Linked DNA regions of Homo sapiens: all the other regions are linked to region 2. Evidence: fine-mapped expression QTL. A gene starts in region 2. Each other region holds a variant in brackets. All regions are shown on one strand. Distances are between the middles of the regions.

The links.
Region 1: its variant is fine-mapped to the expression of EGFL6 in subcutaneous fat (GTEx, PIP above 0.99).
Region 3: its variant is fine-mapped to the expression of EGFL6 in subcutaneous fat (GTEx, PIP 0.98).
Region 4: its variant is fine-mapped to the expression of EGFL6 in aorta (GTEx, PIP above 0.99). The same link has a PIP of 0.9 or more in gastroesophageal junction.

Annotation. Positions count from the first base shown.
Region 1 is chrX:13,532,630-13,538,833 of GRCh38, forward strand. No RefSeq gene overlaps it. Among named protein-coding and RNA genes, the nearest start is that of EGFL6, 34 kb to the right of the region's middle. The variant C/A (reference allele first, on the strand shown) is at 2,917.
Region 2 is chrX:13,566,806-13,573,009 of GRCh38, forward strand. EGFL6 (EGF like domain multiple 6) reads left to right here and starts at 2,796. Exons shown (of 12, transcript NM_015507.4): 1 at 2,796-3,130. The coding sequence starts at 3,057.
Region 3 is chrX:13,540,342-13,546,545 of GRCh38, forward strand. No RefSeq gene overlaps it. Among named protein-coding and RNA genes, the nearest start is that of EGFL6, 26 kb to the right of the region's middle. The variant C/T (reference allele first, on the strand shown) is at 2,906.
Region 4 is chrX:13,518,725-13,524,928 of GRCh38, forward strand. No RefSeq gene overlaps it. Among named protein-coding and RNA genes, the nearest start is that of EGFL6, 48 kb to the right of the region's middle. The variant A/G (reference allele first, on the strand shown) is at 2,461.

The sequences.
Region 1 (6,204 bases), 34 kb before region 2:
TGCCCTTCAAATCTCACACAAGTTCTTCCATTGACCTACTCTAACCTAGAACCACACAGGGAAGGGTCTTCTGGGAAATGGAGCTGCCAGATTCACCACATTGAAAAGAGAACCATCTAGAATAGTGAGAGAACGGCAACAGCTAGCTGACAAGAGAAAATGTGAAATAATCACAGGGGCAAGTAGACTAAATTTTTTTTATCATCTGGCTCAGAAAAGCAGGCTGACATTATAGCAGAGATCCACAACTTCTCTATAGTCTGCACTGAACTGGACTTAGAATGGAAACGTCCTGGATTCTGGGGAAAAAATAATACAGATATGATTATCAAGGCAGTTCTGTAAAAATCATCAGTCAATCAAGTCAAATATGATTCTCTGAGGTTCTGCCAGTTTCAACCAAAATTGGACTTACAGCAGGGGTTGGCAAACTGTGACCCTCTGGCCAAATGTGTCCTGCTTCCTGTTTGGTAAATAAAGTTTTATTGGTACACAGCCATGCCCATTTATTCCCATATTGTCTGGCTGCTTTCATGCTACAATGCCAGAGTTGAGTAATTGCAACAAAACCATCTGGCCTGTTTGCCAGCCTCTGTCTGAAGCATACTATGAACAATAAAGGTAGTCACAGAAGGGTTGGAGGTAGCTAGTGCCAGATCCAAGAGAGGGTGCGGGAGGACAGGGCAGGCAGGTGAGCTAACAAGGGCAGACAATAATGGTATCTTAGTTAGGGTAGGCTAACTGCTGTAATAAATGGACTAAAAAAATGAATAATGGTTCAAACACAGCAAAAATGTATGTCTCCCTCCTATAGTAGTCCAGAAGGGGTAAACAGCTTACAAAGCCTCTGCTATTTTCAACATGTAGCTTCCAAGGCCACCCCAGAGGTGGTCTCCATTCAAGCCAAGTGGAAGAACGTGGAGAAACATACATGAGAGATGTTATGGGTCAAGCCTGGAAGTAATGTTCATCACTTCTGCTTCCATTCTCATAGCTCAAACTCACTCTTATGGCCACATCTAATTGCAAGGAAGGCTGGAAAATTTAGCCATGTGCCCAAACTTAAAGTTTCACTTGTGCCCAGAGAGAAAAAATAATCATGGATTTTGGTGTTCAGCTAGTATTCATCTGCCACAAAGAGCTCCCACGTATGATGCTTCATATATACTTATTAACTCACATAATCCTCCCTGCAACAACCCTGAAAGGCAGGAACTGTCAGTATCCCCTGTTTTCACGTATGAGGCACAGAGAAGTGATGTAACTTGCCCAAAGCAATACAAGTGCTTAGGGTTGGAATCCTGGCACGTGAGTACCATGAGTCATACATGGGTTAACTGTCCCATGCCATCTCTCTGCATAACTAAAAATGTGAGGCAGAGGCAGTGGACAGAAGCCACAAAGCTGGACCAGCAGAGGATCAAAGCTGAGAGTAGCAATTCCAAGGGGAACTGGGAGTGTTTGGAGGGTCAGGAAGAGCATGAAGGGCTCCTAGCTAATCCAAGAAGAAAATGTCACAAGTGACCTTCCAGAAATTTACCATTTTCTCTTTAGGGTGGTTTCAAAAGCCAAAGCAAGTGAGGGAGAAGGGGAAGGGCTGGCTGAGCTGAGGTGAAGGGCCAACAATTGGGTTTCTGTCACAAAAAGAGGTTGTGTTGACTGGGCCAGAGCTTCTTAAACTGTGATGCGCACACAAATCCCCTGGGGATCTTGTTAGCCTACGGATTCGGATAGAGTGGGGCTTGAGATTCTGCATTCCTAAGAAGCTTCTAGGAGGTACTGATGCTGCTGGTCCATGAGCCACACTTTAAGTGCTAAAGAACCAGGCAAATGGGAGCAAAGTCGATTTTAAATGGCAACTATGGCTTTGAGGCAGCCCTACTAGGGGGATTCTCTTCAGGGTTCAAATGGGGCATAGCTTTAGATGAGATGGGATTTGGGGGTAGGAGATTCTAAAACCAACCTCCCAGCCAAACCATGACATTCAGTGGCCAGAAAGCTCTATGCCTGAGACTGTGTCTCATCAACAAAGACCTCAAACCAGCTGCCAAGGCTCTCTCTCCTGATTTCCAGGCCTGAGAATGGAGGGAGATGACCAGGAGAACATGGAGAGCTCATGTTTGGGGGAGAATGAGGGAGTCTGAGCTGAACTTTGTGGCCATTTCAGACACACACACACACACACACACACACACACACACACACACACAGAGTCAACATTTATGGAACTAACTTTATTGAGCAGTTACTAGGTAAAAGCACCATTTCTTATACTTATGTGTACAGTCTATAAGGATACATCAAACAGTTAACAGTGGTTGTCTCTGGGTCATGAAATTTGAGGCAAAAGAGTTTTTTGGACTTTCTATTTTAGACAGTTCTGTGTAATTCTGGGTCATTACACATACACTGAGGGTCAGAATACACCACCTGGGCTACCCCAAATATACCAAGCTTCTCCTGCTTCTATTCCTCTGGACAAATGCCTTGGCCTAGAACTCCCTTGCCCACCTGACAAATTCCTACTCTGTTTTCAGGTCCAGCACCCGTGCCATCTCCTCTAGGAAGCTGCCTTGGTGAAGTTCAAAGCTGAATCCAGGCTCCACAATCACAATATCCCATTCACCCTATCATGACACATTCTTACCACAGTCTATTGCAATATTTGAGTCTTTTCTGCTATGTCTTCCACTGGATGGTGAGCAACTTGAAGGCAGAGGATTTTTTTTCCTTCTTTCCTGAATGTCTAGCTCCCAGCTTAGGGCCTGGTGAATAGTAACCACTTAATCCGTGTTTTTAATGAATCGCTGTATGGATACACACACACTTATCATGCACTGTGGGTCTAGTTTTTAGCTGCTATCATCTGATTTTGGAATTTGCGGGCCATGCTGTGACCCAGGCCAGGGCTGCAAA[C/A]TGTGGTCATGATGGTTTACCACAACCTGTGATCTGGGCCAACTTCCTAATTAGGGGTAAGACTGCTGGAGTTACCACTTACAGGGCATTGAAATGACTTAGCAAACCCATACTTAGGGTCTTGTATTTGATTTTCAACAGTCACATAGCCCCAGCTAGAGGTGAACTTGAAGTAGCATTGTCAGGCTCACAATTTGTTCAGGACCTCGCTTTGCTAGTGACCTACATTCCCCATCTGTAAGTAATTTAAATTCACCTGGCGTTCTGTTAGGAGAAGGTAACTGAGTCGTGTTAAGGCAGACTGCCCCAGCCCTCACCACTGGAGAGATCTGTCTCAGCAAATCCTCCCTGAGAGACTAGCTCTCATCCTCTCTGAGCCTAGCCATGGGGGTAAAGTGCTGGCAGGCAGCCTTGTTTTCTGGCTCTCTGCAAAAAGCAAGCTGAAAAGAAAGAAAGTCTGTTTGCAGAGGAAGGAACCTATAGCAAAAATGGCAGAGATAAACAAGCTGGCACACAGCCATACTTATTTTGAGTGATACAAATCCTTGGGGATCACAGCCTTAGACACATAGAAAGTAGCTAAGAAATACTGAGCAGGCCTAGCATTTTGCATGTCTGCGAGCCAAATCATACTTCATTATCCTCAAAATTGTCTAAGGCGGCACTGTCCAAGACAGTAGCCACTACCATCATGTGGCAATTAAAATTTAAATTAATAAAAGTGAAATAAAATTAAATACTCAGTTCCTCTGTTGCACTAGCCATATTTCAAGTGTTCAGTAGCCACATATGGCTAGTGGCTACCATATTGGACAGCACAAATATAGAACATTTCCATCATCACAGAATGTTCTATTGTACAGCACTGGTCTAAGAGTGAATTATATTTTGTGCTCTTTTCTCTTCACTAAATATACCCAGTGAGCCTTTTTTTTTCCTGGTCATTTTCCCCAGCTTCTGAGGGGGCCTTGCCTATTAAGACCCATTCTCAGAATTGAATGGAAGGGACCAAGGAATGACTTAGCAGGCAAACCCCATCATATGAGTTCATTGTTTTCAAGTTCTGTTATTTCCAGCAGAACATCCCCCACTGCCTTCACCACTGGCTCACGGGGTCCCAGCAGCCCCAGCCAGCTTCACTCTTGCTATTTCCACCAGGACACATTTCACACAAATGAAAGCAGGATTCGTAGAGTGAAGGAAAACGATGAACTTCTGGGATGAGGTTTTAACAACATTTCCAAATGTGAGGCGTAGGCTATTCCTCTGAGTCTCAGATGGCATGGTTTCCAGCATTTTGAAGGCAGCTTTGAATACCTCTGGATATTTTATAGGCTGAGGAAATTGAGGCCTCATTTTATACCATATTATAAAGGATCTCCCAGAGTGGAGTAGAAAATAAGTTCAGATTCGAAGCAGATTTTCCTCGAATGGCCATTCCCTCATTTTTAAAGAAAATATGTGCACCATCACCATAGTCAGGGCACAGTTAGGAGTAAGGAGAATGAAAAGAGGAATTGATTAAGAGGAATGGCTTCTTTTAAAATGTCATTTTCTTAAAATATGGTTTATACAACGTATATGTGTATGTACATGGAAAAAGTGTACTTTTTTGTTTGTTTCCGGGATCCCCGTTAATATCAAGAAGACACTAGAGACAATGATGAATCAGACATCAGCGAGAACCCTAGAAATCTAGAAACAATGGTCAGTTTGGACGCTGCTAAGCAGACAGACCTGAGTTACTGCAGATTTAAAAGGCATTAAGATGCCTCAGTTTCCCCAAGTGATCCTCTTTTGGGAAGTCCTAGATGAAAACAATTTGGAAAAGCCACTGACCAAAGTAAAAGCATGTTGTACCCCATTTCCTCCACCAACAGCCATGTTCTTTTAAAATTACTGGATATTTCATCAGTACATCTAGAAAACAATAGTGTCTATCTGTTGTTTTTTGTGTTTATACCAGGCTATCCTCCAATAATGGATTTAAATATAAATCATTGCAAATATAAAACATTGCAAATTTTTTAAACTCATTGATTGCTATACATGTATCAATCATTACAAATATATCAATTGCTACATGTGTGTTTTTTATACATTGTATCAAATGTATTGATTATTACAAATGTACTTTTAAATGTATTGATTGGAACAACGTTTAAACACAAGAGATAAGGTTACATTAAAAAAGTAAGTTAGTCTGGGTAGGGCCTTTGGCACATATAGCTACAGTTAACATTAAACATAGCCCACCTCCTAGCCAAATTAACATAAAGCCTTACACTGAAAGCCTAATTAACTCAGTTTTTATTACCAGATATATCATGATCACTTCCAACAAAAAAAATTATGAGATAAGCTAAAGGCAAGGAAAAAATACAGTCTAAAGAGACAAAACAAGCATCAGTATCAGACTTAGATGTGATTCAGATTTTGAAATTATCAGATAAGAAACTTAAAACAAATATTATTGATATATTAAGGGCTCTGAACTTGGCCAGGCCCAGTGGCTCATGCCTGTAATCCCAGCACTTTGGGAGGCTGAGGCGGGAGGATTGCTAGAGCCTAGGAGTTCCAGACCAGCTTGGACAACACAGTGAACCCTTGTCTCTACAAAAAAAAATCAAAAAATTAAAAATAGCCACATGTGGCGGCACACACCTGTGGTCCCAGCTACACAGGAGGCTGAGGTGGGAGACCACTTAAGCCCAGGAGATCAAGGCTGCAGTGAGCCGTGTTCATGCCACTGCACTCCAGCCTACCTGACAGAGAGAGACTCTATCTCAAACAAACAAAAAGTAAGTGAAGAAATTAGGTAAAGAAAAATAAGAAGCAGCCAAGAGTGAACTACTCAACATGCATACTGTGGCCAAAATTTAGGCTCTAAGCCTTCAAGCAGCCAACTCAAAGAGAGAGACATAGGCAGTTACTTGATTCAGCATCCAGAAAGCATAAACTAATTCTTAGTTCTTTTCTCCCCTAGTCCTAGCAAAGAGGATGGGGCAAAAGTGCCTAACAAGGACCTCATCAACACCCCTGTGAAAAATAAACAAGTTTGATCCGTTTGTTCTTCTAGTAAGGCCAATGCAAATATGCAACTCCGAAAGTTTCGAAAGACAATTCTTAGGCAAAGAGCTTGGAAATCAATATATCTTTGTCCAGTTAAACAGCTTCCTTTTTATTTTTTTTCTATACAGGGTCTCACTGTGTTGCCCAGGCTGAAGTGCAATGGCATGATCACAGCTCACTGCAGCCTCTACCTCCTAGGCTCAAGTGACCCTCCCA
Region 2 (6,204 bases):
ACCTGTTCCACACAGGGGGTTAAGTGGAAATAGATTGGAAGAAAATGTAGCCCTGTAAAAGGCACGGACGATTTTATGAGATTCTGATCAAAGATTGTTTTTTCTCTGTAGAATGATGAAGTAGGGTCCCCTAAAGATCAGTTTCCAGGTTCCTCTTCAAAGTCAGCAACACCAGTGCAGTTACTAAAAACAACTGCCTCCATGTGGCAATTTGTATCCAACATCTTCTCACCTGGCAACACATCATTTGCAGGTTCCTTCTCTGTTGCTCATATTATGTGACAGCTCTTTTGTTCACAGCTCCCCCAGGAAATAATAGGTGGGTTGGCTGGGGAGTGTTTGACCTCCCCCAAAGTTTCCTGTTGTAATGTCCATTACCTCCTTTAAGCCTACAAAAGAGAATTCAGCTGACAAAGAAAAAGCACAAAGCATCAAAATACTGAAACTAAAGCTAGAAAGTTACAGATAATGTCAATGCAAGATGTTATTCTGACTTTGTAACTCAGGACTAAGAAGGCAGATAGCCCTCACATTTTAGACTAATCATGTTTAGTTAGGACTTTTTTGAGTAATGGTTTATTTGGAGGAGGGAGTGATTAGTATCCAAATGTTAAGGGAGAAGTGGCATGGGCAAAAATCCATAATTTTTAATTCGATTCAAGTTCCAGATATTAGGTAGCTGCCAATGTCATGCCACTACCCGTATCCCCTCAGGCCTTACATTTCAGTAGGACCTTCAACAGTCAGTATCACTAGCCATTTGCCTGAGGGCTTTCTTTGGCTGTAAGCCCCACTCTGTCTTCAGCACAGAAGACTGAGTTCTAGGATCAGTACCACAGTTGAAGCTTTCAGGTAATGAGTGAATGGAAGTGGTGTATAAATACCCAGTTCCCTTGCCTTTTAGGTAAAATCATTTGGAGATGCTTGTTCTATGCTGGCTCTGGGAGATCCCCAGCAGCATGAACCTCCAGTTGCTCACAATGATAACTTAATATATGCCTGATATTGTCTTCTTTCCCAACTCATTTCCTCACTCACCTACCCATGTTCTCTGTACCTCCAGAATAAACTACTTTTACTTGAATCCTTGCCTCAGGGCCTGCTTGTGGGGAAACCCACAACAAGACAAATTTTATATTCCATTTTCTTTAAGATCCTCACAGGTATAGAGTTCATAACTTATATTATTTTCTTTTAGTTTTAATATTTCAGTAAATAAAATAAGTTATGGTATGAAGAGTTCAAAGTGTTTTGATGACAACCTTGAAGAGCTCATCTTATTACCTTATTCATGATACTCATCTGACATGTGAATCTGCCAATACGTGAGAAGATGAGAAAAGAGATTGATATAACAGCAGCAGAGCCCAATGGGGAAAAGCCCTGGTTTCCAGTTCTGGTTCTATACTTGTTAGCTGTATGACCTTGGTCGGGCAAGCTGCTTAACCTCTCCGACTCAGTTTCTTGACACTTCAAACATGGGGGAACTAATGGTCTCCATCCACAGGCTTGTGGATGTTCAATCAGATAACATATGTGTTTAGGACAAGGTCTGACACTATTAATTACGAGCAGCTCAATGGTCTAACTAGTTACCCAAGAATACTGAATCCATGGGGATACCTTCAACTGTAAAATAGAAGTCCCAACTAAACATGGCTTGCACCAATAAGAACATCTATTACAATGTAAAGCAAGATTCTGCAGCAAGAATCTCCCCCCTCCCTACTTCTCACATTTCATTGGCCAGAATTAAGGCATATGCCTATAAAACCATGAATCAAGCTTCCAATCAAGATAAACCTCCTCTTTCTCTGTATCCTTTTTCATTTCATTTCTCACACTGGGCCACTGTGTGTCAGAGGACTATCACAATAAGCCTCAGTAGATTGGCTGGTGCCGGGCAACCTTAGCTGAGCTCATTCATATACGTGTGGATTGGGTAATATACATGAGGCTCCACCGAGTAGCTCTGCTTCAAGCTATAGATCTGCAGGTTGACGAGGTAGCTTTTTCACCTGTTTCTCATTCGCCTTGGACCACCAGGCTAGGTGGTGCAAGGTCTTCTCATGTCCATGATAGAGGGTCAGGTGTGTTAAGACCTAGGCTTGGAACTGGAACACTGCAACTTTTCTGCCCTTAAACCATTGATCAAACAAGTCACACGGCCAAGTCCAAAGCCAAGGTGTGGGGTCATAGTGTCTGCCTACCATGAAGCCAAAGGGTGTGGACGTAGGAAGGACAGAAAGGGATCAGTCATTCATTCTAATGTAACACGTTGTCAGAACAAAGAATGTGTCAGTACCCAAATGGATCTGAATTCATATAGCATTCATGTTTCTGCCATGAATTTCTGCACTGGTTACTATATTGGGATGTCATCTGGGGTCCCATGTAAGTAAGCTGTTGCAAATGGGCCTGAGAGATTACTTGCCAAATGACAGGGTTGCCCAGGACTTAGTGACCTTCCAGCTCTAGCATCCCATTATTTGCAGTTTGTAGAAGAAAACCGGGAGAACGTGAAAACCCAAAGAGAAGTGAGGGATCATGTCTTAGGAACCTGCATCCTTCCATCCTGCTTCGACTTCTCAACTAAATTCTTAAGTCCTGGAGTGCAGGTATCACCGAAATTTGCCCCATGCCTGAAATACATGGTAGTAGATGGTGACTCTGACAAGCGTGAAGTGACCTGAATCTGGGGGAAGTTTCTGGGTGAACAGAGAGCGCGGAGGATGCGCGGGTCATGCTGGAGGCGGGTCCCAGCCAGATGTGCACAGCCCGCCCCGCCCTCCCTCGCTCACCCCGTCCAGCTTCATCCGCAGAGGAGCCTCGGCCAGGCTTGCCAGGGCGCCCCCAGCCCCTCCCCAGGCCGCGAGCGCCCCTGCCGCGGTGCCTGGCCTCCCCTCCCAGACTGCAGGGACAGCACCCGGTAACTGCGAGTGGAGCGGAGGACCCGAGCGGCTGAGGAGAGAGGAGGCGGCGGCTTAGCTGCTACGGGGTCCGGCCGGCGCCCTCCCGAGGGGGGCTCAGGAGGAGGAAGGAGGACCCGTGCGAGAATGCCTCTGCCCTGGAGCCTTGCGCTCCCGCTGCTGCTCTCCTGGGTGGCAGGTGGTTTCGGGAACGCGGCCAGGTGAGTGTCTGACTGGCGATTGGCTTCCCCCCACCCCCGGCCTGAGGTCCCGCTTTGGGGCCCCATGTCTTTGCAGGCACCCCCGCGTGTATGGGTGTGAGTGTGCACGTGTGCCTGTGCGCGCTGCGACGGGATTTAACCTGGATACCAGGCCGGGAGCGCCCACGGGCTTTCCTCCCTGCTCTCCTGTGGCGGGGCTTTGCACCTAGTTAGCTCCTTTTGCATCAGCTGTGCCCCACCTGGCTGCGTCCGGAGGGTTGCAGGAGGAGGGAGGCTCTGCACGCAGACCCGTGGGTGCGTGCGGGCTTGATGGTCTGCAGACCTGCTGTAGGGGCAGGTGTGTGAGGGTTGGTATGCGTGTCGGTGGGTGGGTTCTGTGTCTGTGCGGTTTTGTGTTTTCCACTCTATTCACAGGACACCAAGTGCTTGTCAGTCGCTAGTTTTGCTGGGGAAGGAGGGAAAGAAACCGAGGACGATAAAGCATTTACTGTTCTTGAGCTGAGCCAGCCGGGCTGCTCTCCTCACTGCTCTCTGATTAGGGTTGATGAACTGGAAAGAAAGGACACGGTTGTCAGATGACAACCATTCTCATTCTTGCTATGGCAATGCAGACTCTGAAGCCGTTCCCTACTGCCCTTAAGCTTAGCTGAGACCTGAAATATTTTTTCCAGAGATCGGCAAAGACGCTTAGTAAATGCACGCTTACATGGTGACTGTCGACCTGGCACTGTTCTAAGCACTTCAGGACTATTAACCTACCCAAAGCCATAATGGCTCTGTGTGTAAGGTACTATTATCATCATCTCCGTGTTGTAGAAGAGAAAAACGAGGCACAGAGAGGTAAAGTAATTTGCCTGAGGAAGCATAGCCAGTAAGAGATGGAGCCAGGGTGCAAACCTAGGTATTCTGGCCCAAAGTCTGTTCTTCACCAGGGCACTAGGGCAGCCTTCCGGCAACGGAAGAGGTTTTCTGGTTCTCTAACTGTGATGTCTTGCTTTCTACTTAGGTGTCCACTAGAATATGGTTTTTCCACCGCAGCATTATTGACCTTTCGGGCTGGGCTGGATAATTATTTGTTGGGGTGATGGGCTGCCCTGTGCATTGTAGGATGTTTAGCAGCACCTGTGGCCTCTACTCACTAGATACTAGTAGCAACCTTGACCCCACCCCACCCCCCACCACCACCACCACCACCAAGTTGTGGCAACAAAAAAAAGGTTTGGGATATTGCCCAAGGTCCCTGGAGGGCACAATTGCTCCTAGCGGAGACTGCTGAACTATAGAAATTTTTCAGTGATGATTCCTGAGGAGAGTAGGATAAGAGCTTTGGTTTGGTACAGGCTTCTCGAAGGTTTGCCTATCTTTGTTTGACTTACAGGAAAAAATATTTCATCAGAGTTAGCCATGGTATTAAAGGATTTCGAAGTTAAAACAGAACAAACCTCAAACCAGGTTCTTAGAATGTATGATCGCAAGTTTCAATTTCCTTTTCATGATAAAAATGTAAGCAGATGCAATTTGCTCATAATCACATTTTCCTTGAATGCTAGAGGTTCTTGCGTTGCTAGAAAGCCCACTTAAAAAAGACCAAATGCTGTTTGGAGATGAGATTAATAGTTCTTTAGCGGCCAGCAAACTGACCTCCAGGAGCTTCACTTTCAAAGTGCCACCAAATTAAATTAAAAGCCAAAAGCCCCTGGATAAACCAAAGCATATTAAACTGGAGAATCCATGTCAGGATTCTGCAATTCTGCAGTTTTCAAGATGTGAACCATGGTTTCTTTAGACGATTATCAAGTTTATGAGCTGGTGTGTTTATTATTTGCTCAATGTGCTTGGAAATGTCAAGTGGTCAGCTCTTCAGGAATGTCCAGGACCCATGTTTAATCAGCTCTAGATTCCACATTATGGATAAGACACTGTTACAGAGAAGGCAAGGCACCCATTGCAGAAAACTGTGTCTACTGGTTATTTCCTGGGGTTTCACAACTTATAGGAAAAACTGTGGCTGCTGTATAGAGATTTCCAGTATAAGCATCAGTTCTTTTTAATTGAAACACTGCACTATGATTTTATAACCTAGAAAATTATGTGCTTCTTAAATGGTATTTAGTGCATAGTACACAATTAACGCTCATCAAATGAATAAATCATTAGCTCCATGCATGTACCTGCCCTTAAGCTTCAGAATTTGGCTTGCCTTATATTTTTTATGTCCTTTGGGTATTGGAACTATTTAGATACCCTAGACCTGTCCAATACAGCAAAGATGGTAACCAGGAGCCCCAAGTGGCTATTGAATACCTGAAATGTGACCAGTCCAAGTTGAGATGTGCTGCAAAAAGTATCAAATACACATCTAATTTTCAAAAAAAAGAACAGGAACTATCTCACTAATCATTTGATATTGATTACATGTTGAAATGGTAATGTGGATATACTGCATTAGATAAAATTGTTATTAAGATTAATTGCTTCTGTTTCTTTAGCATTTAAAAAATGTGGCTACTAGAAAATTTTAAATGGCATATATGGATATTTATTTCTATTGGACAGTGCTGGTCTAGAACACTTATTGATCTGAACTCCATCTCGAGTGTTCTAAGTCCTAACACTGGGATCTTTTTGCCTTGAGTACCTAAGATAAATATATTATTAACTTTGCTATTCTGGAGATTAACGTTTGGAGCAACTCCTTCCTTACAACATATTTCTGTTTTATATTTTTTTCTCTACTGAATTCAAGTAAAAATAATGTGAGAGAGGAGGGAATGACTAGGTTCCTGCTGAGAGGCTTTACTTACAGAGACCACATGCTATGTGGGTAATTGATTTTTCTCAAAGCCCTGGTAGCAAAGTGCCACTGTAAAAATTGGCCACAAATTCCATGGCTTAAAACAAGAGAAGTTTATTGTCTTACAGTTCTGAAGACCGGAAGTCCATAATGAATCTTATGGGGCTAAGATTAAGGCATCAGCAGGACTGGTTTCTTCTGGAGGCTCCAGGGAGGTTCCATTTCTTGTATCTTCCAGCTTCTAGAGGCTGCCAACAGTCCTTAGCTTGTGGCACAATAT
Region 3 (6,204 bases), 26 kb before region 2:
CTATAGTCCCAGCTACTAAGGAGGCTGAGGATCCCTTGAGGCTAGGAGTTCAAGGCCAGCCTGGGGAACATGTGGGACCTTGTCTCTAAAAAAGGGGGGAAAAAAAGGAATAAAAAAGAAAACATTGTTCCTGGAAATGGTAGTGGGACGTAACAGGGAGATAAGGACTTAAGGGGAACCAGCTGATGGCGGGTCTGGCTGAGGGGAATATGATCAGGAACTGGTTTCTCTCCACCAAAGATGAGCAGCACCCAACTTGTAATGGCTTGTGGGAAATGCAAAGATGCCTCTGAGGGCAACACTCAGTCACAGCCAGTATAAATAACCCTGACTTTCATTGCAAAACAGTTTTCACTTAAGAAAGATATACTTTTATTTTATTTGACTTTCTGTTTGAGCTGCATAGCTCAGGAATTACTCGGGATTAGGGCGGTATATTTTTTTCTTCCTCTAAGGGCTTATAAGGAAATCTAAGGGCCTACATCTTTTGCTGGGAGGTTATCTCTGTTAATATTTGGGATAGCTAATGCCTGTTGGCAGAGGAGGTGGGAAGAGATGTGTTTCATTTTTCCTTTCAAGAGGCAGGCCCAGGATTCTGGTGCTACTTACAATAAAAATTCCTTTGATGAAAGATGGGTGGAAGGACATTCCATTCCATTCAATTTCCTATTCCTATTTCAAAGAAAATAACCCGATTTGCAGGAAAAAAGAGAGCATGTATAGTGATATGGTTCATGAGAAGTCATTTGAAGTTCCTATATTTACTATCTTAAAGACTGCTGGAAGAAATAACCATAAAAGAGTCATAAACATATTGACCTGCACGTATTTCACTTCATTTCATACTTTTGAAAAATATAAAAAAGATCTATGTTCTGGCCCTCACTTATAGTCCGCAACAGAACTGTGACTTCTGGGGGCTGGGCACAGTGGCTCATGCCTGTAATCCCAGCACTTTGGGAGTCCGAGGCAGGTGGATTGCTTGAGGCCAGGAGTTTGAAACCAGCCTGGGCAACATGTCTAGGCGAAACCCTGTCTCTATTAAAAATACAAAAAAAAAAAAAAATTAGCCAGGTTTGGTGGCGTGTGCCTATAATCGCAGCTACTCAGGAGGCTGAGGCATAAGAATCGATTGAACCCAGGAGGCAGTGGTTGTAGTGGGCCAAGATCATGCGATTGTGCCACTGCACTCCAGCCTGGGCAACAGAGCAAGACTCTGTCTCAAAAATTAATTAAGTAAATAAATAAATAAATAAAGGAACTGTGACTTCTGCACCAACTGCAAACAATATCCTTAGAAGGATTTAACTTCGTACTTCAAGATTAGAATTTTTAATTTTTAGAAACTATTTTCACTGTAGAATAACACACTTATACACTGCTGGTGGGAGTGTAAACTAGTAAAACCCTATGGAAAACAGTGTGGAGATTCCTTAAAGAACTAAAAATAGATCTACCATTTGATCCAGCAATCCCACTAACTGGGTATCTGCCCAGAGAAAAATAAGTCATTATATGAAAAAGATAGTTGCACACACATGTTTACAGAAGCACAATTTGCAATTGCAAAAATGTGGAACCAGCCCAAATGCCCATCAATCAACAAGTGATAAACTGTGGTATATATATGATGGAATACTACTCAGCCATAAAAAGGAGTGAATTTATGGTATTAGCAGCAACCTGCATGGGATTGGAGATTATTATTCTAAGTGAAGTAACTCAGGAATGGAAAACCAAACATCAAATGTTTTCACTCATAAGTGGGAGTTAAGCTGTGAGGATGGAAAGGCATAAGAATGACACAATGGACTTTGGGGACTCTGGGGGAAAGAGTGAGAAGGGGGTGAGGGATAAAAGACTACAAATGAGGTTCAGTGTATACTGCTCGGGTGATGGGTGCACCAGAATCTCACAAATCACCACTAAAGAACTTACTCATATAACCAAATAACACACGCACACACACAAAGAATTAGCCTTGCTGTCCACATCATGGTTTTTCTTTTTCTTTTTTTTCTGCCTATGGGAAGTGGGAGCCCCAAGTGTCCTGAATGGCTACCAGTCTACGGACTTCCCTAGACCCAGCCATGATTGTCCAGTTCCTACCACATGGCTGCAGTCTGTACGTCCTCTTCAGCTTTCCAGATCTAGTGTAAGCTAGTCCCCCTTCTCCTGGAAACTGGGCCCCATCCCTGAATGCTCTGCTGCTGGTGAGAGCCCCACTCTACCCTGAAAATCCAAGAAAACCATGATGCTACTCTTTTCCTGATTTGCCCATCCTACAGCCTAGCAAAAACGAATCATGCCCAAAACTCGTTAGAGCAAATTTAGGCTTTTCTTCATTGCCTCCCCACTTTCCCCCATATTGATGCTTTAATCAAGTCCAATTCACCAGGCTACTCTAAACACTGTAACTTGGACTGCTGGCTTTCTCTCCAGAGTACGACAGGCCCAATTTTCACCCACTGGCCCATGTTACTGAAATCCCAATATGCCCATGGCTGGTTATGACATGCCCTAAACTGTAGGCCTCTTGATGGCATAAATAAGACATACCTCAGTCCAGTTTTCTCGGTACCTAGCAAAGAACCTGGTACAAAGTTAGTGCTCCAACAGGGTTTATGAAAGAGAATTTAAATCAGATGCCATACAGCAAAACATAAAATGCTATGTATAAACACTATTATTATGAGTCAGTATTATGCCAAACTCATTTCATCCAGCCAAGTATAATCATGTAGTTAGCCAGAACACTCCTCACCAAACCCTTATGTAACTGGCTTTTAAAAATATTCTGCTTTTTCATTTTTAAAAAGAAGCAGGTAATAATAAAATAGATCATTTATAACTGCCAACTTGTAATCATCTGGGGAGCTTTTAAAAAATCCTGATGCATCGATTT[C/T]ACCCCTATCCCCACGCCCGGCCAAAATTCTGATTTCATTGGTCTGAAATGAGCCCCGGGCATCAGAATTTTTAAAAACTCCCAAGGCGAGTAAAATATGTGGCCAGGGGTGAGAACTGCTGCTTTAGGGGCAGCTTCCCAAACTTTAATGTGAAAAGAAAAAAAATCACCTGGGGCTTTGTTAAAGTGCAAATTCTGATTCTATAAATCTCAGTTGGGGCCCAATTCAGCACTGTCTACCAGAATTAAAATTGCCTGTGCGCTCTGACCCAGAAATTCCCCAACTAGTTATTTCTCTCATGGACATACTCACACATATGCATAATATCAAATATATGTAAAATTCATTACAGTGGAGTTTATGTAACACCCTAAATATCTGTCAGGAGAGGACTGTTTAAGTAAATGATGGTGCACCCATAAAATGCCATGGAAGACTTTATAACCTTAAAATATAATTGGAATAATCTGTAAACTACAATGTTAAATGAAAATAAGAGTAGAAGCAGGGTAAATATTTACAAACATATTTTTATAAATACACAGACTAAGGAAAGGTCTGAAAAAAAAGGTAACAGTGGTTATCTTCAGGGAGAAAAATTGAGGGACTGATGTCACATAGAAAACTAAATATAATAATCCAGATTTAGTAGGTAAAGGTGATTAGTATTATTGTAAGGGGGTGCAAGGGACTATTGCTCTAGGCAGGATACACCAACAGTAAGATCTGCAAGCTTCTCAAGGTTTAGGCAAAAATGACTTTTCTTTTATAGGAATGAGTAAATCAAGCCAAAAATGAGCAGGGGTGGGCAGTGGGATGAACGAGAGTGGCATCGTGGAACAGCAGATCAGAGAAGGTTTTACCCCCAGGCCAGCTTGTTCTCTGGAGTGGCTGGTTTAGACTGCGGCTGGGCCAGAATGTCAGAGTCTTGGGGAAAGAGCATTTTGTCCCGATTGATCAGCAGGGACAAAAGAGCTCAGCTAGTCATTTTTAAGGAAAAGAATAGAAATTTGGAGAATCTGTATCTGGCTTTGTACTAGGTAAACGAGGGGGGGTTATCTAAATCATCATATGAGGAAAGGTGGTTCTTTGCAATAGTCATTTCCTGCAACACAAAAAAAGTGGGTGAGGGGGTTTCTGAGCCTTCTGCTGTTTTCCAGGTGTGTAGGGCTCAGGTAAGGCTCCATATTGTCACTGGAGAGAGAAGGAGCAGTGGTTTCCATGGCATGTCCTTTTCTCCTTTAAAAATTTTTTCTACCAGGCCGGGTGCAGTGGCTCATGCCTGTAGTCCCAGCACTTTGGGAGGCCGGGGGTGGGGGGTGGGGGGGTCACCTGAGGTCAGGAGTTCGAGACCAGCCTGACCAATATGGTGAAACCCCGTCTCTACTAAAATTACAAAAATTAGCCAGGCGTGGTGACATGCGCCTGTAGTCTCAGCTACTTGGGAGGCTGAGGCAGGAGAATCACTTGAACCCGGGAGGTAGAGGTTGCAGTGAGCCGAGATCACACCACTGCACTCCAGCCTGGGCAACAGACAGAGACTCCATCTCAAAAAAAAAAAAAAAAAAGAAAAAAAAGACTACCTAACATACATTTAAATTTTAAACAAATACTATATTTTAAATGAATAAACAGTTTAAGACCACAAATTCTGGAAACCTCTTTTCTTGCTACAGTTTAAAATTCTTCCAAAATGGCTTTGCATGTAGAGAGAAGACTTGGGCAGTGTTCATTGAAATTTTGGGGAAAGTGCTGAGAGCCAAGAAGCATTTCCAGTGCTTCGATAACTCGGTTCTGAGTTTCGCTCCTACAGATAGATGTCAGGGGGACTATGTGGGCGAAGCCAGCATACCACATTGAAGAAACACCCCCTATCTCTCCCTGGGTTTAATTTCACAGCCAGGCATTGAAGTCCATTCCCACAAATGTGCCGAGTTTTGTAATCTCCACTTCTCATACAAACTAGAAGAACAAACCATGAAATAAGAGACAAACTCTGGCCCAAATACATGCAAATAAAGCATTCCTATTCCTCTGCTCAAAGGGATTTTGCTGAAGCACTGCAGTTCTGTCACATGGAGCCCTTGTAAGGGCACAGGAGATTAGCAGAGTTGGGGAATTTTCTCTCACCACTGGGGCCTGCTATTGTTCCCATTTATATTTTTGGCTTCAGTTGGCAGCCTCCTTTTACTATTCCTTCATCGCTTGCACCTGCTCCATCATATTTTGGCCCTGGCTTTTTGCCCTACAGGTGCTTAGGTAATGTTTACACACCCAAAGATGCAGGCCTTATCAGAACTCATGTTGCACAGTGTTAACTTGATCTGCCTCTTCTGAGCACCTGAAACTTGATTTCAGTTGCCAAAATTCACCAGTCCAATTATTTTTTAACCACAATTGAAAGAGTTACATTACCAACAATATTGCATGAAAACAGAAAAGTTACTTCAGAATAATTAAATCCACCTTTGGGAAAATGAACTATACACAGCTTTATAAATAGTTAACTTAAGCAAAAAGATTAAGGCAGGACTAGAGATGGGCTAGTTGTGACAATTCCCAAATGGACCTCAGTGGAAAGGGGTGATTTGTAAACATGAGGGCTGTTAAAATACACCTTGCAGATGTCTAACTGCAAGGAGCTGAAGTGACTGACGGCCCCAGCTGCTGCCTCTGAAATTCATCACAGCATTTGTGCCAAGGCCACCCCTCCCATGCCTTGCCCTTGCTGATGACTGAGTGTGGTGGGTACTAAGCCAGCCCATTACTGGGATACACAAGTTTCCTCTAATGGAAGATTCTGACTTCAAGACTTCCAGGCAGCTCTGCCAAACCTTCCTTTTGTCTGCTTAGCAGTCGGATTCTTTCACCAAACTTCTCTTCCTCACTTGGGGTCAGACTTGCATTGAAGTCTGATGGCAATGTAGCTTCCCCAGTTCTGTCCCCCAGTTTCTCCTTTTGTGGTTCCATACAAATTTTAAGATTGTTTTTTCTATTTCTGTGAAAAATGCCATTGGTATTTTGATAGGGATTGCATTGAATCTGTAGATTGCTTTGGGTAGTATTGTCATTTTAACAATATTAATTCTTCTAATCCATGAGCGTGGTATATCTTTCCATTTATTTGTATCCTCTTCAATTTCTCTCATTGATGTTTTGTGGTTTTTCTTGTAGAGATCTTTCCCCCCCTTGGGTACATTTATTTCTAGGTATTTAAAAAAACTGTTTTGGTAGCTATTGTAAATGAGATTGCCTTCTTGATTTCTTTTTCAGCTAGTTCACTGTGTATAGAAAATGC
Region 4 (6,204 bases), 48 kb before region 2:
TCTGTCCATGGCTAAAGCTCAAGTGGGCAGAAAGACCCTAGGGTTCCCTGTACCCAGCGTACTGTGGGAGCAAAAGGCACATCCGTTTTGCTGTGTCTGCAGGAAGTTTAAGAGAATCTCCAAGAGTCTCTCAGACCCCTGAGATGGCCAAGAGCAGCAGATGTTTCCCTGGTACCAGAAAGTGGTAGTCACTAGCACTGCAGGTAATGTGAAGCTGTTTCCAGAAGCTCTTTAGAAGCAATAGAATCTGCCATTAAGATTGAAGATCACAAATACATACAGAATGAACGTAAAAACCATGGCTGAGAATTGAATACTCAGTGGTCCCCAGAGACAAGTGGCTGTATCTCAAAACAACTTAGATAAAAACAAAGATGGTGGAAGCCTGGAAGATGCCTGTAGATGGCTCCAGAAGTGCTTCCCAGAATAGTGAAGACATCATTGTTGGAAGTTGAATGTGGAGAATCTGAATAAAATATCTTTCATAAAATGTGAGCAGGGGAAAAGTAATGTTATATATTGCATGTTACTTAATAAGGGGTTCCCAACAGGAGGCAATTTCGCCCCACAGAGGACATTTGGCAATGTCTGGAGACATTTTTTGTTGTCAGAACTTTGGCAAGGGTGGGAAAGTGCTACTGGAATCTAGTGGGTAAAGGCCAGGGTGTTGCTAAATGAGCTTCTGCTCTAGTTTGTGTTCCTACACCCAATAACACTAAGCCTTGACAATGACCAGTTCACAGGGCCGTGCTGTCACTCGTGATTGGATGTACCTCGTGATGGATGTTGGAAAGTTTCTCAAAGCATGTCCTCAGGATCCCTAGTTGCATAAAACATCTCTAAAGAATGGCTTGCATGGTCTTAAGATTTGGGAAAATGCTATATTCCAAATTCTCCCTTGTAACTTGGCAATGGACAGTAGTATGTTCAAGTCTCTGAGAAGTCCTGCAAAATGTTGGACTTGGATTAATCTAAAACTTTCCAAATTTGTTTGATCACAGAGCCTTTAAAATTTTTTTCTGAAGGACAGAGGGCAAGGACACTTCTAGTGTTGTCATGTTTGACTGTTTACATGTTTAAATACATTTTATTCTGAATTACTTTCATTTTATTCCCTTTTGTATTACTATTAGAGCATCATACCAATTTTGGGGCAAAAGTACGTAAAGGTGGGTTGTATTGTCTGTGAATTTCATGTAAAACTAGGAAAACAGGCACTGTAAACTATTTGTTATAAAAAGAGTGTATGGATATTTGTCGTAAGAAAACGGTATAGGAAAACCTCTGTGTGTGTCTCGGCATAAAGGTAAAATGATCACCTAAGCTACGCTCTCCATCAGAGATGAGTAGAGGAGGGATGTGAAATCCTGCTGAGATCACAGTATTGCATTACAGAGCTAAAAGCCACCCTGGGCTCCTCTAGTCCCACCTTTCGCTGTACAGACAAAGAAATTGAGATTCAGCAAGGTTCCATGACTTACCCAAGGGCCTCAAAGTTACCACAGAACACAAAGGGCCTTCTGGCATGGCCTGGTCATACTGCATTTCTTGAGTGGGTGAACAGAAAGTTCCAGAAGCAAATATTGTACCATTGTTTTCATAGAATTTACTGTCTTGGTTCGTGTTCACAAATCCCTGAAGAGCAATAGAGGGATGATATGTTAAACATGTTTCCCTGCAAACTCTCCATTCCCTCGAACTGTATTTACTCTACCCTAAAGCAGAAAGTTTAATTGTCCCCCTGGATGTGCTGTGTGATGATATTTTGGAAAGAGAATTGACCAAGGAGCCAGAAAATATCTTACAAAAAAAATCACTCTTACTCTTAAGAATAACACCTTCTACATTTCCTTAACCATAAAAAGTATTACTCACTTCATTGTCCAGACTTCGCTTAAATGAAATGTGACTCTTTCAAACAATCACATCAACCCTGAAAGGATCAAGGTTTGTCATGACTAAGTATTTTCTAAAGTGAAAAGTTAAGAGGGTCAGAGGCCTGGCTTTTGCCCTGGCTAGTTATGTGTACTTGAGATTGTCACTTCTCTTTTCTGTTTTCTCCATCATAAAATAGGTATAACAATGTATTTTCAGTTTTTCTCAGAGTTGTTTTGAAGGTAAAATAATACCAGGTATATGAAAGCTCTTTTAAGCCTTTATAAAGCCTCACAAGTACAAGAGATTGTGGTTATGCCATGCACAAAATAGCTTTTCCAACCTGAAATGAATATGAATATTTCGGGAGATGTCTGTGTTGGGTCTCAGACTAATTTAGATTCCTAAATTTGATAACTGTCAGGTGGTTTCAGAGTGACTTGCTGATTATTACAAAGCAGTCTGGCTTTCTCCCTCTGGGTGAAGCCAGCAGAGAGGCCAGATATTTCTGGAACTTATATCCAGATGTTTCCAACATGCTTTCCAATTTACACTCAACTGCAATGGTATTTCTCCATTTCCCCA[A/G]AGAATCAGGAAATAGAAATGTTTCAGCACACAGAATTGAATATTCCCAGTCACGGCAAATATGTACCTTGACTTGGAGAGATTTCTGGTTGCCTGGAACATTGTCAGACAGACAGGGACTGGTAGCCCTTGGGCTTTTTTTTCTCTCATTTTTATTTCTTTCTTTGTTGTTTATCTTGTCAAAGACCTCCAGCCCAGGACTGCCAGGAACATACCTATAGTTGAACACATTGGGATTACTGCTTTTTGCAATGAGGGAGACTGCACACCATGGGGGAACCATTGGACATCTCATTAAGAGATTTTTAGAAAAAACTTATTTTGGGGTGTGGGCTTATGTTAGGTGATTTAGGGGAGGGTTTAAGGAAGCAAGGTTTTGCTTTAGAGTGGTTGCTGTTAAGAAGTGGAGGTAATTCTATTACTGGCCATATTTGGTCATTTTTGTGACCTCACAATGCTCCGTCTTCTGTAGTCACACATGATTACAGGCCAGTCTTTATTTTTATCTTTATCCATCATGGTCACAGAGTGGCCTTGTCTGATGTTGTTGGTTTATAAAATATTTATGTTCAATAGGAGGGCACCAAGACCCAACCATAAGTACCAAGCCAGCTTCTAGCAACATCAAAGTCTAGCTCAAGTTTGTCCAACCCACAGCCTGTGGGCCATATACAGCCCAGGATGGCTTTGAATGTGGCCCAACACAAATTTGTAAACTTTATTATAACATCATGAGATTATTTTGCAATTTTCTTTTTAGCTCATCAGCTATTATTCATGTTAGTGTATTTTATGTGTGGCCCAAGACAATTCTTCTTCTTCCAATGTGGCCCAGGGAAGCCAAAAGATTGGACACCCCTGGTCTAGCTGATAGTGCCAGGCTGCCAGGGGCTATTCTCTTTCTCAATCTTTGCCATGAAATAAAATCCAGATATAAATATCTACGCACAACAAAGACGTAGCTTAATGAATTTTTATAAGATAAACAGCCTTGTAACCATCATTCAGGTCAAGAAATAGAGCTTTGGCAGTCATCCCAAAAGCCCTTCAGTTGTCCTAGTTCAGTCACAGCCCAAAAGTAGCCACCATCACTGACTTCTAGTCATCACTTCCTTGTGTTTCTTTATCTTTGTAACAGACGGTGTCTCTCTCTAGACACTGGAGTTTTGTCTGGCTCATTTTTTAAAACTTGATATGATGGCCGGGTGTGGTGGCTCACGCCTGTAATCCCAGCAATTTGGGAGGCCGAGGCGGGTGGATCATGAGGTCAGGAGATCGAGACCATCCTGGCTTACACGGTGAAACCCCGTCTCTACTAAATATACAAAAAATTAGCCGGGCGTAGTGGCGGGCGCCTGTATTCCCAGCTACTCGGGAGGCCGAGGCAGGAGAATGGCGTGAACCCCAGGGGGCGGATATTGCAGTGAGCCGAGATCACGCTACTGCACTCCAGCCTGGGCGACAGAGTGAGACTCCGTCTCAAAAAAAAAAAAAAAAAGAAAGAAAAAGAATTACATATGTTTTCCTCCATCTTTCTTTTCTTATAATTTACCTATTGAAAAACCAAAGCCAGTCAATCTATAAGATTTGTAAGTGTCTGGATTTTGCTATTTCATATTCATGGGCAGTTCAACCCTGACCTTTGTCTTCTATTTCCTTCCACTGACATCTGGATTCAGAGGTCTAAATGGACTCAAGTTCAATTACTTTGGCAAGTCTGTAGGTGGTGTTGTATTCTTTCCTCAAGAGGCATATTAAGTATCCTTTGTCCCTTGAGCTATTTTTATAAGAAAAATGTATGCTTTCTGTTTTCAGGTGTGAAATGCTGATTTAGACAGAACATCCCCAACCCCTGAGGAGACCAGCTGTGATTAGGTAATCCTGCCCAGAGGAAACTCAGAAAACATTGTTGAGGAAGGCTTCTTGGAGCACAGAGTATAAGGGATGTCATCTTGCAGTTGTGCTAAACGTCTCCTTTCCCTTACATTACTGTGAAAATGTCCCTTTTAGTTTTATATGTGGTGTGGAAATGCCTGTCCTCTAGAAAAACTTAAAATAGAGCATGGTGACATCTGGCATAGATCATACTTCTTTGTGATATGATGAAAAATGCATGGTCTATTAACTGAAACTATTATTACTGGAATATAGGACTCTGTGCTTGCATCCCACAATGCACAAGGTACCTAATAGTCACTTCTTCACTGATTCCATGAAATAAGTAGGAAAAACATAGTTCATAATAACGAAGGGATGCTGTCCACCATTAACGGTGGTGTCAATCTCTCCATAGTCAATAGAGCTTCGTGTCATCTAATCCAAAAGTTAAAGAGGTCAACTAACAGAGATCATTAATGTTTTACTCATGTGAACAAATACCATGACTCTTGACCAATCTTCAGTGTCATACTTCCTTTTTCAGTCAAAGTTTCATCAGGAAGACAGGATCTATACCAGTTATTTTAATAGAGTGAATTTAATATAAGGAATTGGTTAATGGTGTTGGAGAACTGACAAGTAAAGAGAATCCTGAGTTGTCTCAGAGATTGTAACTGCAGGAAGCAGCCACTACCCCTAGGGCTTGGTGGGAACAGGGAGAAGAGGTTTCTGAACCTAGAAGATTGGAGGAGGGTCCCTATGAGGCTGTCACCCATGGCTCTGAGTGGGGAAACTTTCTGGTGGTCCTGATGGTTGAGTGGGTGGGATAAGGATGGTTCCAATGATGTAGGAGGAAAAACAAGAATTGGAACCACCTGCTAGGGAGAACCATTCATGAGAAGACACTAATAGGAATGTTAATAAACAAGAAGGAACACATTCTTCTCTCTCCTCCAGTCTTGCTGCATCCCTCTATTATCCCTTCATGGCAGAGTCTGACAGGGAGCAACCGGCAAAGCAGAAATGCAGCAGAGTGATTTGGGGGCTGAGAGACAAGAGCTTAATAACTGGCACACTTCCTTTTTTCTTCTGAACAGATTACTGTGATTACCCTTGTTTTCAAAGAAAGTATCAGTTTAATCTTTTGAAGCTTGTTGGTAAATACAAAGTCATTACTAAACAAGGGAGTGGGTATTGATGGGTGTCTTGAGTATGCTCAGCTCTAAAAGCAGTTCATAATTTTGAGAGTCAAGGAACCACAGCATGGGGTTTCAAGTCTCTGGCTAGTGGGCATTCTCCTCTTCCTTTGCAATAAAGTTCTCATAAATGCCAATGTCTTGGTTTAAATTGTTGAGCCTGTGGTCTGTTTTCCATACCACTATGAATTACTTCCCAAGACATTTTGCGTCCAGCCTTAGGTTTCTAATGGCTAGGAGCACAGGACATGTGGTTATTGCAGTTTTGAACTTTCTCCAAAGAGATCAGTCCTAGAGTCCTGCCCTTCTCTTTCTGTGTCATTATCACCAAAAGGCAGAAATGAAGGCTTTACACTATGAGCTTGGGCCCAAAATGGGCAGGATCTTTCTGAATGTGGGGTGATCAAGGAATCCTGGAAACTTTGGGGGGTTGTGCATGATCTAAGAGTTCCCTGTTATTGAGCAGAGCATCTGAATAAATTCTTTTGGGAAAAGGTAGCAAGTTCAGATACACATGGTACTCTCATTCAACATGTTGTGCCTAGGACAAAGGAGATACTCAATGACAGATTATCATTAATTTATTGACTACTTTAGGAAATGTTTATTGGATACCTATTGTGTGCCAAGCATTGTTTTAAACCCTGCTTATACAGCAATAACAAAGCAG